Regions from separate parts of the Homo sapiens genome. Here region 1 is linked to region 2. Evidence: fine-mapped expression QTL. A gene starts in region 2. The other region holds a variant in brackets. All regions are shown on one strand. Distances are from middle to middle.

Region 1 (5,370 bases), 24 kb after region 2:
CAGGGAGCTCGAACCTTAAGTAGGTGAGGAATAAAAAAAGGAAGAAATGCAGTCGTTCATTCATTCATGTATGTAATAAATAGTACATGGCCTTGAGGACAAGAGAGCCTTCAGCCCTTACCCTCGTACGCCTCCCAGTGTTGTTATAGAGACAGAAAATAACACGATAAGTAAATGCAATACCTATTAGATGGTGAAAAAGGCTAACGAGAAAAAATTCGGTAGCCAAGGGCGGTGTATGTATAGGGTGTGCAGTTTCAGGAAGGGTGGCCAGAATCTGAGGTGGTGACATCTGAAGAAAGACCTGAAAGAGGCCGGGTACGGTGGCTCACACCGGTAATCCCAACACTTTGGGAGGCCGAGGTGGGTGTTATCACTTGAGGTCAGGAGTTCGAGACCAGCCTGGCCAACATGGTGAAACCCCCATCTCTACTAAAAATACAAAAAGGCTTCAGCTTCCCGAGTAGCTGGGATTACAGGCATGCAACACCACACCAGCTAACTTTTTGTATTTTTAGTAGAGACAGGGTTTCACTATGTTGGCCAGGCTGGTCTCAAACTCCTGACCTCAGGTGATCCACCTGCCTTGGCCTCCCAAAGTGCTGGGATTACAGGCGTGAGCTACTGTGCCCTGCTTGCAATCTCTTATTTTTAAAATGTGGGTGACTGCCAGGAGTGGTGGCTCATACCTGTAATCCTGGCACTTTGGGAGGCTGTGGGGTGAGAGGATGATCGATTGAGCCCAAGATTCCAAGACCAGCCTGGGCAATGTGGTAAGCCCCCGTCTCAACAGAAAAAAAATTTTTTTTAATTTGGCTGGGCGCAGTGGCTCAGCCTGTAATCCCAGCTACTTGGGTGGCTGAGGCAGGAGAATCGCTTGAGCCTGGGAGACACAGGTTACAGTGAGTTGAGATCCTGTCACTGCACTCCAGCCTGGGCAACAGAGCAAGACTCCATTTCCAAAAAAAAAAAAAAAAAATCAACTGTGCCTGGTGGCTCATGCCTGTAGGCCCAGCTACTCAGGTGGCTTGATAGCTTGAGTCCAGGAGTTCAAGGATCCAGTGAGCTGTAATCACACCACTGGATTCCAGCCTGGGTGACAGAGCAAGACCCCATCTCAAAAAAAAAAAAAAAATGAGCAATTAATAAAAAAACATGGCTGGGCATTGTAGCTCACGCCTGTAATTCCAGCACTTTGGGAGGCCAAGGCAGGTGGATCACTTGTGGTCAGGAGTTCAAGACCAGCATGGCCAACATGCTGAAACCCCATCTCTACTAAAAATACTAAAATTAGCTTGGCCTAGTGGCGGGTGCCTGTAATTCCAGCTACTCAGGAGTCTGAGGCAGGAGCATCACTTGAACCCAGGAGACGGAAGTTGCAGTGAGCCAAGATCGCGTCACTGCACTCCAGCTTGGGTGACAGAGTGAGACTCCATCTCAAAAAAATAATTAAATAAAAATTAATGAAAAAACATAAAATGCTGTGCATAGCAAAGAAATCCTTTTGGAAGGCCAACTTCTATTTTAAGACAACATTCACAAATACTTATTGAGCAACTACTGTGTGCTGGACAGTGTCCTGAGCACAGAGGATAGTGTCCTGGGCACAGAGGACACAGGACAAAACAGACACAGTGTCTGGCCTCATGGAGCTGACACCCCCACTTTTATTTTTTTGAGACAGAGTCTCGCTCTGTCACCCAGGCTGGAGTGCAATGGGGCGATCTCAGCTCACTGCAAGCTCCGCCTCCTGGGTTCACGCCATTCTCCTGCCTCAGCCTCCCAAGTAGCTGGGACGACAGGTGCCCACCACCAAGCCCAGCTAATTTTTTTGTATTTTTAGTAGAGACGGGGTTTCACCGTGTTAGCCAGGATGGTCTCGATCTCCTGACCTCGTGATCCGCCCGCCTCGGCCTCCCAAAGTGCTGGGATTACAGGCGTGAGCCACCGTGCACGGCCCACCCCCCCTTTTTTTTTTTAAATTATTGTATTGCCTTCCTATGTGTTGGAAAACTGACTGCAGATAACAGGCATCACTGCAGCCCTCAGCTGCCTTGCGAGGACGTCATCTCAACATGTTTGTGGCTCAGGCTGTTTACGGAGGACTTCCC[G/C]TGGACCAGGAGCTGTGCTGACTCAGGAAGGCTACGAGGGCAGGGTGCCAGGTGTGACTGGCCCCAAGGATGCTCCCCAGGAGGAGATAATCCCAGGGTGCAGGACGCAGATATCGAAGCCTCAGCCAAAAGCAAGGCCTGTGTAAGTCAGAGAACTTGGCATCTGGCCTCTGTAGACCTTCGAGAAACTGATAGCACAGAAGAACCAAGTCTGCGTCTTCTGTTCGGTGGGTCCTCTGGGATTGAGCAAGTCCCTGGGGGGCGGAAGTCTGGAATCCAGGTATCTGCAGATCTGTGGCCTCTCTGGAGGCTCCAGGGGAGGATCCTTCCTGCCTCTTCCAGCTTCTGGGGGTGGCCGCCAGTCCTTGGTGTTTCTCAGCTTGTGGCTTCGTCACTCCAATCTCTGCCACTGTCATCACCTGGCCTTGACCCCTGTGTGTCTGTCTCTGTGTTTCTGTGTTAGAATCTCCCTCTCCTCTCCTTTTATTTTATTCTTCTGAGACAGAGTCTTGCTGTGTTGCCCAGGCTGGAGTGCAGTGGCGCGATCTCAGCTCACCGCAACCTCTGCCTCCCGGGTTCCAACGATTCTCCTCCCTCAGCCTCCCGAGTAGCTGGGAATACAGGGGCCTGCTACCATGCCCGGCTAATTTTTGTATTTTTAGTAGAGATGAGGTTTCACCATGTTGGCCAGGCTGGTCTTGAAGGCCTGACCTCAAGTAATCTGCCCACCTCGGCCTACCAAAGTGCCGGGATTACAGCCGTTAGTCACTGCGCCCAGCTCCTCTTTCAGATCTTTATTAAAACATCATCTTTGCAATAAGAGCATCCCCGAGCACTGCATCTGAAACTGTAACCTCTTGCCTCCTCCTTTTCCCTGTTCTCTTTTCTCCTTAACTCAGCTCCAAAGGGGATTTTTTTTTTTTTTTCTGGAGTGCAGTGGTGCAATCTCGGTTCACTTCAACCACCGCCTCCCGGGTTCAAGGGATTCTCCTGCCTCAGCCTCCCGAGAAGCTGGGATTACAGGCGCGTGCTACCACGCTCAGCTAATTTTTGTATTTTTAGTAGAGATGAGGTTTCGCCATGTTGACCAGGATGGTCTCGATCTCTTGACTTCATAATCCGCCCTCCTTGGCCTCCCAAAGCACTGGGATTATAGGCGCAAGCCACTGCGCCGGGCAAGAACTTTTTAAATAACAGCTGTATTGAGATATAGTTTACATACTGTACAATTCATCTGTGTAAAGTGATAATTCAGTGGTGTTTAGTATATTCAGAGTCGGGCAGCCATCATCACATAAATTTTTTTTTTTTTTTTCCGAGACGGAGTCTTGCTTTGACACCCAAGGTGGAGTGTGGTGGCATGATCTGGGCTCACTGCAACCTACACTTCCCGGGTTCAAGTGATTCCCCTGCTTCAGCCTCCCGAGTAGCTGGGACTACAGGTGCGCGCCAGCACACCCGGCTCATTTTTGTATTTTTAGTAGAGATGGGGTTTCACCAGATTGGCCAGGCTGATCTTGAACTCCTGACCTCAAGTGATCTGCCCGCCTCAGCCTCCCAAAGTGCTGGGATTACAGGTGTGAGCCACAGCTCACGGCCATCACATCAATTTTAGAACATATCCATCAACCCCCCAAAATAAAGTCCATTCCAGTCACTCCTGATCCCCCTCTCCCAGCCCTTGGCAACCACTAATCCACTTCCTGTCTCTATGGATTTGCTTATCTGGACATTTCGTATCAATGGAATCACTCACTATGTGGTCTTTTGTATCTGGCTTCTTTCACTGGGCATGATGCTTTCGAGGTTCATCCAATCTGTAGCCTGTGTCCGAGCCTCATTGCCTCATATTGCAAAACACCGTGTCATTGTATGAATGGAGCATTTTCCCTTCATCTGTGGATGTACATTTGGGTTGTGTGCACTTTGTGGATGTTATGAATAAAGCTGCTATGCACATAGGTGTGTGAGTTTTTGCGTGGATGTTACATGTTTGTTTCTCTTGGGTAGATACCTAGGAGTGTTACTGCTGTGTCATGTGGCAATTCTATGTTTAACCTTTTTTTTTTTTTTTTTTTTTTTGAGACTGAGTCTTGCCCTGTTGCCTAGGCTGGAGTACAATGGTGCGATCTTGGCTCACTGCAACCTTTGCCTCCCGGGTTCAAGCAATTCTCCTGCCTCAGTCTCCCCAGTAGCTGGGATTACAGGCGCCTGCCACGATGCTTGGCTAATTTTTCGTATTTTTAGTAGAGACGGGGTTTCACTATGTTGGCCAGGCTGGTCTCGAACTCCTGACCTCAGGTGATCCACCCACCTCCACCTCCCAAAGTGCTGTGATTACAGGCGTGAGCCACCGCGCCCGGCCCATAATTTTTTTAAAAACCTGTTTTTTGTTTTTTTTTTCAAGACGTAGTGTTGCTCTGTCACCCTGGCTGAAGTGCAGTGGCGCAATCTCGGCTCATTGCAACCTCTGCCTCCTGGGTTCAAGGGATTCTTCTGCCTCAACCTCCCGAGTAGCTGGGATTAACTCCGTACCTCAGGTGATCCGCCCGCCTCGGCCTCCCAAAGTGCCGGGATTACAGGCTTGAGCCACCGCACCTGGCCTAAAAACCTGTTTTGTTCCCTGCTGTCTCACTGGGGCCTGGAGGAGCAGCACTTAGGAGCGCAATGCAGGTTTGTTGAATAAATTAATGACTCTCAGCAGTGACGTTTGTACGTTCGGGACACGCACCTGGTGTTGGGTCCCATCTGCGCTCATTAGGCGCGACGTCAATGCCGCACTGAGGTGTGCCTGGCTTCGATCTACCCTAGGAAGGGTCTGCCCTGGGGCGCCCCATTCCGCGACTGTCCCCAGTGGGAACCACGCCCTCCATCTACCAGAGCCATTTCTGCAACGTCTAGCACCCCGCGGGTCCTCTTCCGGCCGCGGTTGCCCTGGGCAACGCGTGGAGCCGCGCTTCCTGTATTGATTTGAATCGCGGGAGACGTCACGTCCTCCCGAGATGCCCAACGCGCGCAGGCGCAGCCACTCGGAGTGGGCAGGGCCTGGCTGGGTGTTGGGCAGGGCCTGGCGGTGTGTGGGGTAGGCGGGGGGCGTGGCCGCGATTAGCCGCGCGCGGCGTGGGGGCGTGGTCGGGTTGCGGGGGTGCGCGCGGCCGGCCGGGCGCGCGCGGCGGAGGGAGGGAGCCGGGAGGCAGCGGAGGAGCGACCGCCGCCATATTAGGGACCGCGGAGCCCGGGATCCCGTCAGCGGCGGCCG
Region 2 (5,370 bases):
GAATGGATGGGTTGGGGGATGGGTGAGTGGATGGATGGATGGATGGATGGATGGATGGATGGATGATAGACAGATGGTGGGTGGATGGATGGTGGGTGGGTGGATGGGTAGGTGATGGGTGGATGGGTGATGAATGGATGGGGGGTGATGAATGGATGGGTGAGTGGGTGGATAAGTGGTAGGTGAATAGATGGGTGGGTGGGCAGCTGGGTGAGTGAACAGATGGGTGATGAATGGATGATGGATGGATGGATGATGGATGGATGGATGGTGGGTGATGGATGGATGGGTGAGTGGGTAGATGGGTGAGTGGGTGGATGGGTGAGTGGGTGAATGGGTGATGGATGGGTGAGTGGGTGGATGGGTGAGTGGGTGGATAGGTGAGTGGGTGAATGGGTGAGTGGGTGGATGGGTGAGTGGGTGGATGGGTGGGTGATGGATGGATGGATGGTGGGTGATGGATGGATGGTGGGTGATGGATGGATGGGTGAGTGGGTGAATGGGTGAGTGGGTGGATGGGTGAGTGGGTGAATGGGTGAGTGGGTGGATGAGTGGATGATGGATGGATGGATGGTGGGTGAGTGGGTGAATGGGTGAGTGGATGAATGGGTGAGTGGGTGGATGAGTGGGTGATGGGTGGATGGAAGATGGAGGTCTGCATCCCTGAGTCCTCTGTGGGAATCCTCAGGTTGGGAGGCAGTCAGAGCCATAGGAGGCACTGAGTCCAGGTGGGTCGCCCATACCTAGGCCTTGTACAGACACCTACACAATCCTACACCACAGTCTTCTTCAACAGGTATTTATTAAGCACCTCCTGTGTTCCAGGCCCAATGCTGGGTATGAGGACACAGCCAGGACAAAAGCTAAGTTGCCTACACAACTGGAAGGCACCACGTAATGTCTCAAAATTAGTGAACAACTAAGACAGCTCCACTGGTGATAAGCATGAATCAGACTTGGGGCTGGGGACAGTGTCAGGAAGGCTGGTGGCCAGGCTGGAAACCCCTGACTAGGGACTGGAGGAGGAGAAGGAGCTGCCAGAAGATACAGGAAAGGTGAAGATCCCAGGGCAGGAATGTGTTTGAAGGATTCAGGACAGCAAGGTCATCTGCGCACACCCATTCCCCCACCCCGAGGAGGGGTTCACACAGACCCCCAGCATCCGCACGCATAGTACCTCTGGTCCTGGTATAGGTTGGACTCCATTCTGAACGTGGTCTCCTCCTCGTCCTCAGCCCTGCAGAGATAAAGGGAAAGGTGGAAGGGGGCGGGAGAGGAGAAAGGGGGCGGTAAAGGGAAGGAAGCGGTGTGACAGCCTCAGCCTCTGTCCCAACCTCCCAGCCGGGGCTCATGAACCCCAGGACGCAAGGAAGGGCTGGGCTGCCTGGCTCGTTGTCTTGGGGAGACGGGCGGGTGCAAGCCCGGGATCTGGGCTCTGAGAGTAGAGGTTGGAGGAGCAGCAGGGAAATGGGAGACCTTCGGACTTTGAGGCTGGTGATGGGGGTACCAGAGAGGGTTGGGAAGCTGGGGGTGGGGGCAGGGCTGTGGGGGCAGCGGGGTGGGGGCGGGCACCCACCTGGCCTTGGAACACCAGAGGCGGTTGGCCAGCAAGACCAAATAGACGATGAACAGGAAGCCGACTACCGCAGCCAGGCCCACCAGCCACGGCTTCAGGCGATGCTCCGTGGCTGCAGGAAGTTGGGGAGGTTCGACTCAGAGGAAGAAAAGGTCAGAAGACCCCCTTCCCCCACCACCCTAGCAAGGAGAGAGAGAAGGTCACTGGGGGTGCTCCGACAGAGGGGGTATTGGAAAGGGACGGAGCTTCAGAGACCTGGATGGCGTAGGGGGGTCGGGAGGGTTTAGAGAGGGGGAGGGTACCTTACCAGAGTGGGAGGGAGCCTGGGGGCCCAGAGAGGGGAGGGGCTTATAAAAGAAGGGGGGCTTAGAGGGGACGGAGTTTACAAATCAGGAGGGCTCAGAAGGGGCGGGGCTTATAATGCAGGCAGAGGCTCAGGGGGAGGGGCTTATAAAGGCGGACCTCAGAAGGGCGGGGCTTATGACAAAGGAGTGGCTCAGGGGTGGGGTTTATAAAGGAGAACAAGCTCAGGGGAGGGGCTTATGAAGGAGGAGGTGGCTCAGATGGGGAGGGCTTATAAAGAAGAGTCTGGGGGGTTGGGGCTTACAACAGAGGAGCTGTTGGGGGGAGCTTATAAAAGGAGGCAGAGGCTTAGAGGGAGGGGCTTATAAAGGAGGAGCTCAGAGGGGAGGTGCTTATAAGGGGAGAGGGTCTCAGAGTGGGAGGGGCTTATAAAGGCGGCAGAGGCTCAGGAGGAGGGGCTTATAAAGAAGGAGGAGCTCAGAGGGGAGGGGCTTACAACAGACGAGGGGCTCAGGGAGGGGTCTATAAAGGATGAGTGAGAAGGAGGGGCTTACAGAGGAGGAAGAGGCTCAGATGGGGAGGGGCTTGTGAACTAGGGGGCTCAGAGTGGGAGGGGCTTGTAGAGGAGGCAGAGGCTCAGGGGGAGGGGCTTATAAAGAAGGAGGAGCTCAGAGGGGAGGGGCTTACAGAGGAGGAGGGACTCGGGGAGGGGTTTATAAAGGAGGGAGAGTGAGAAGGAGGTGCTTACAAAGGAGGAAGGGGCTCGGATGGGGAGAGGCTTGTGAACTAGGGGGCTCAGAGGGAGAGGGGCTTATAGAGGAGGCAGAGGCTCAGGGGGAGGGGCTTATAAAGAAGGAGGAGCCCAGAGGGGAGGGGCTTACAGAGGAGGAGGGGCTCGGGGAGGGGTTTATAAAGGAGGAGGAGTGAGAAGGAGCGGTTCACAAAAGAGGCGGGGACTCAGATGGGGAGGGGCTTGTAAAGGAGGCCCGAGCTCAGAGTGGGGCCGAGCTCAAGGCGGGGGGTTCAGCCAGGTGTGCTCAGAAGGGCTGGAGAGGGGAAAGGCTCGGGTGGGCGGTGGGGGGTCCCTTACAGAGGAGGGCAGAGCCCAGCGAGAGGGAGGCCGGGCGGTACTGCGGGGGTTGAGAAGGGCCTCCAAGCCACTCTTCCTTTTCTTCCTGCCCCCTCTCCTTTTTCTCGCCATGGAAAATTGGGAGATGGTGATCACCTGACCAACTCCCCTATCCCGCGACGCCCCCTCCCGCCCCCCTGCACCTACCCTGCTGGGCCTCCACCGGGGAGAGGAGCAGAAACTCCAGCACCAGAAGGGCCCCCAGGGTCTCCATGACGGTCGAGTGAGCCAGCAGCCAGCCAGCGGCGGTCCCGGGTCGGCGTCCACAGGTTTGGTGTGGGCGAGGCCCTGCCTCCCCGTGATAAGGCACAGGCGGTCCCCGGGCGGGGGATGCCTGAGACCTGGGAGCGGGGCCCGCCCCTGGCACCACCTGATTGGGCATCCTGCCCCTCCCCTGCCAGCTCCTGCCCCATCGCTCTCCCTCCGGGAGGCCAGACTCTGGACCTGTGTAACAATTAACTGAGGGAGTCCCTCCTCCCTGCACCCTGCCCTGGGGACCATCAGCCTCAGGGCCACCCCTTTGTGATCCCTGCTGCAGGGGCTGAGCTGAGATGGCTGCGACCTCCCGTCCCGGCCCAGGCCCCGTGCCACTCTGGACACAGGGGGAACTCACAAATACAACTGGAATATCTTAAGAAGGGTGCGCCCACCCAGTGCCTCACACCTGTAATCCCACTACATTGAGAGGCCAACGCGGGCAGATCCTTGAGCCTAACCTGGGCAACTTAGTCAAGCCCTACCTCTACAAAAATAGAAAAATTAGCCAGGCGCGGCGGGCACCTGCAGGCCCAGCTACTAGGGTGTGCTGAAGTGGGAGGATCACTTGAGCCCAGGAGTTTGAGGCTGCAGCCAGTTATGGCCGCACCACCGCACTCCAGCCTGGGTGACAGAGGAAGACCCTGTCTCAAAGGAAATAAAAAAAATTAGAAATACAAAGAGTTACCAAGGCTGGGTACAGTGTCTCACGCCTGTAATCCCAGCACTCTGGGAGGCTAAGGCGGGAGAATCGCTTGAGGCCAGGAGTTCCAGACCAACCTCCTCCCGTCTCTAAAATAAAAAATGTAAAACTTAGCTGAGCATGGTGGCCTGCACCTGTAGTCTCAGCTACTCAAAGAGACTGAGGTGAGAGGATCGCTTGAGCCCAGGAGTTCGAGGCTGCAGCGAGCTACGACTGCACCACTGCATGCACCACCGCACTCCAGCCTGGGCAACAGAACAAGACCTTGTCTCTCAAAGCAAATTTGAGAGTCACCTTTTGTGCTCTCAGAGTACACATGAGGCTCCGTGCTCGGCAATTTCACAGATCGCATTTCCTTTTCTTAACACCCCGTGAAATGGTGCCGGTCTCATTGTGCCCAGGAAAGTCAAGGTCACGCAGCAGGTCTGACCTGGGATTTGAAGCCGGGTCTGCCTCGCCCCCAGCTTATCCTGCCTCGCCCAGGCTCTTGGCCCCTGAGGACCCACAAGCAGCCATGGGAGCACACAGGGACAGGGAAGGTGTGCAGAGGCCACATGCCCGTGGTCCACCTGCAAACCGGGACGCTCTCACGTGGGGATGCCCGGGAGCGTTGATGACTCAGGCTCCAGGCTCTCCTGTCCTCAACCTTGGTCCCTCGGCTGATTAGATAGTGGGCCCTGCCCGGGCGAAGGGGGACCCCGCCCCAGCTGACACGGGAGCAGCCATGGCCCAGACGAGTGGTAGGAAGGCCCGGCGTCATCGCACAGGTGTTTATGGAGCGCCTGCTGAGTCGCTGTCACTTCCTCTCTTCCGGAGGTCTGCGGATGACCGCTGAGCAGACCGGCCACTCAGCAGGATGGGGCTCACACATCCCAGCCCCAGGATGGCCACAGGTCTGCTTGAACCAGCCAGGCAGGCATCTATTAAACTCTGACTGTGTATCCCGTCTTGTGCAGGGCTTGGAAGAGAAGGAGGCCTTGGTGCTGTCTGGGAGCTCTCGATCTGATTAGGAAGTCAGGACCACCCCCCAGAGACAAGCAAACCCAGCAGCCGAGGCGGGGGCTGGAGAAGATTTGGAGGTAGGGGAGCCCAGCAGAGGGGGTGGGGGCAGGACCCGCCTTGGAGATCCTGCCCTCCAAAGTCAGTCAGTTGTCTGGGCTTTTTCTGAGAAAAGCACTCTGTGCTCTGAGACCTTGGCGAAGCCACTTCATCACTGCGTGCCTCGGTTTCCCCATCTGTTAAGTGGGGGCGATCAGTCCTACCTCGGAGGATTAAATGAGATACTGCATAGAAAAAGCCTGCTCTGCACAGCAGCAGGTACACGCTAAGCACTCGGTAAGGTTGGCCGATAATATTACAACGTTTTAAATCGCCCTAGTGTTTCTAATTCACAGTTTGCTGACG

Evidence for each region. PIP is the estimated chance that this variant, and not a neighbour inherited with it, causes the effect.
Region 1: its variant is fine-mapped to the expression of SMIM24 in whole blood (TOPMed, PIP above 0.99).

What each region holds. Positions count from the first base shown.
Region 1 is chr19:3,501,005-3,506,374 of GRCh38, forward strand. LOC105372245 (a long non-coding RNA gene) reads left to right here. Exons shown (of 4, transcript XR_936262.3): 4 at 1-47. FZR1 (fizzy and cell division cycle 20 related 1) reads left to right here and starts at 5,307. Exons shown (of 14, transcript NM_016263.4): 1 at 5,307-5,370. RefSeq lists enhancers at 4,682-4,731, 4,782-5,041 and a silencer at 5,362-5,370. The variant G/C (reference allele first, on the strand shown) is at 2,112.
Region 2 is chr19:3,477,242-3,482,611 of GRCh38, forward strand. It overlaps SMIM24 (small integral membrane protein 24), which reads right to left and starts at 3,284. Exons shown (of 4, transcript NM_001136503.2): 1 at 3,156-3,284; 2 at 1,577-1,688; 3 at 1,178-1,237. The coding sequence starts at 3,222. SMIM44 (small integral membrane protein 44) reads right to left here. Exons shown (of 2, transcript NM_001395954.1): 2 at 4,869-5,370.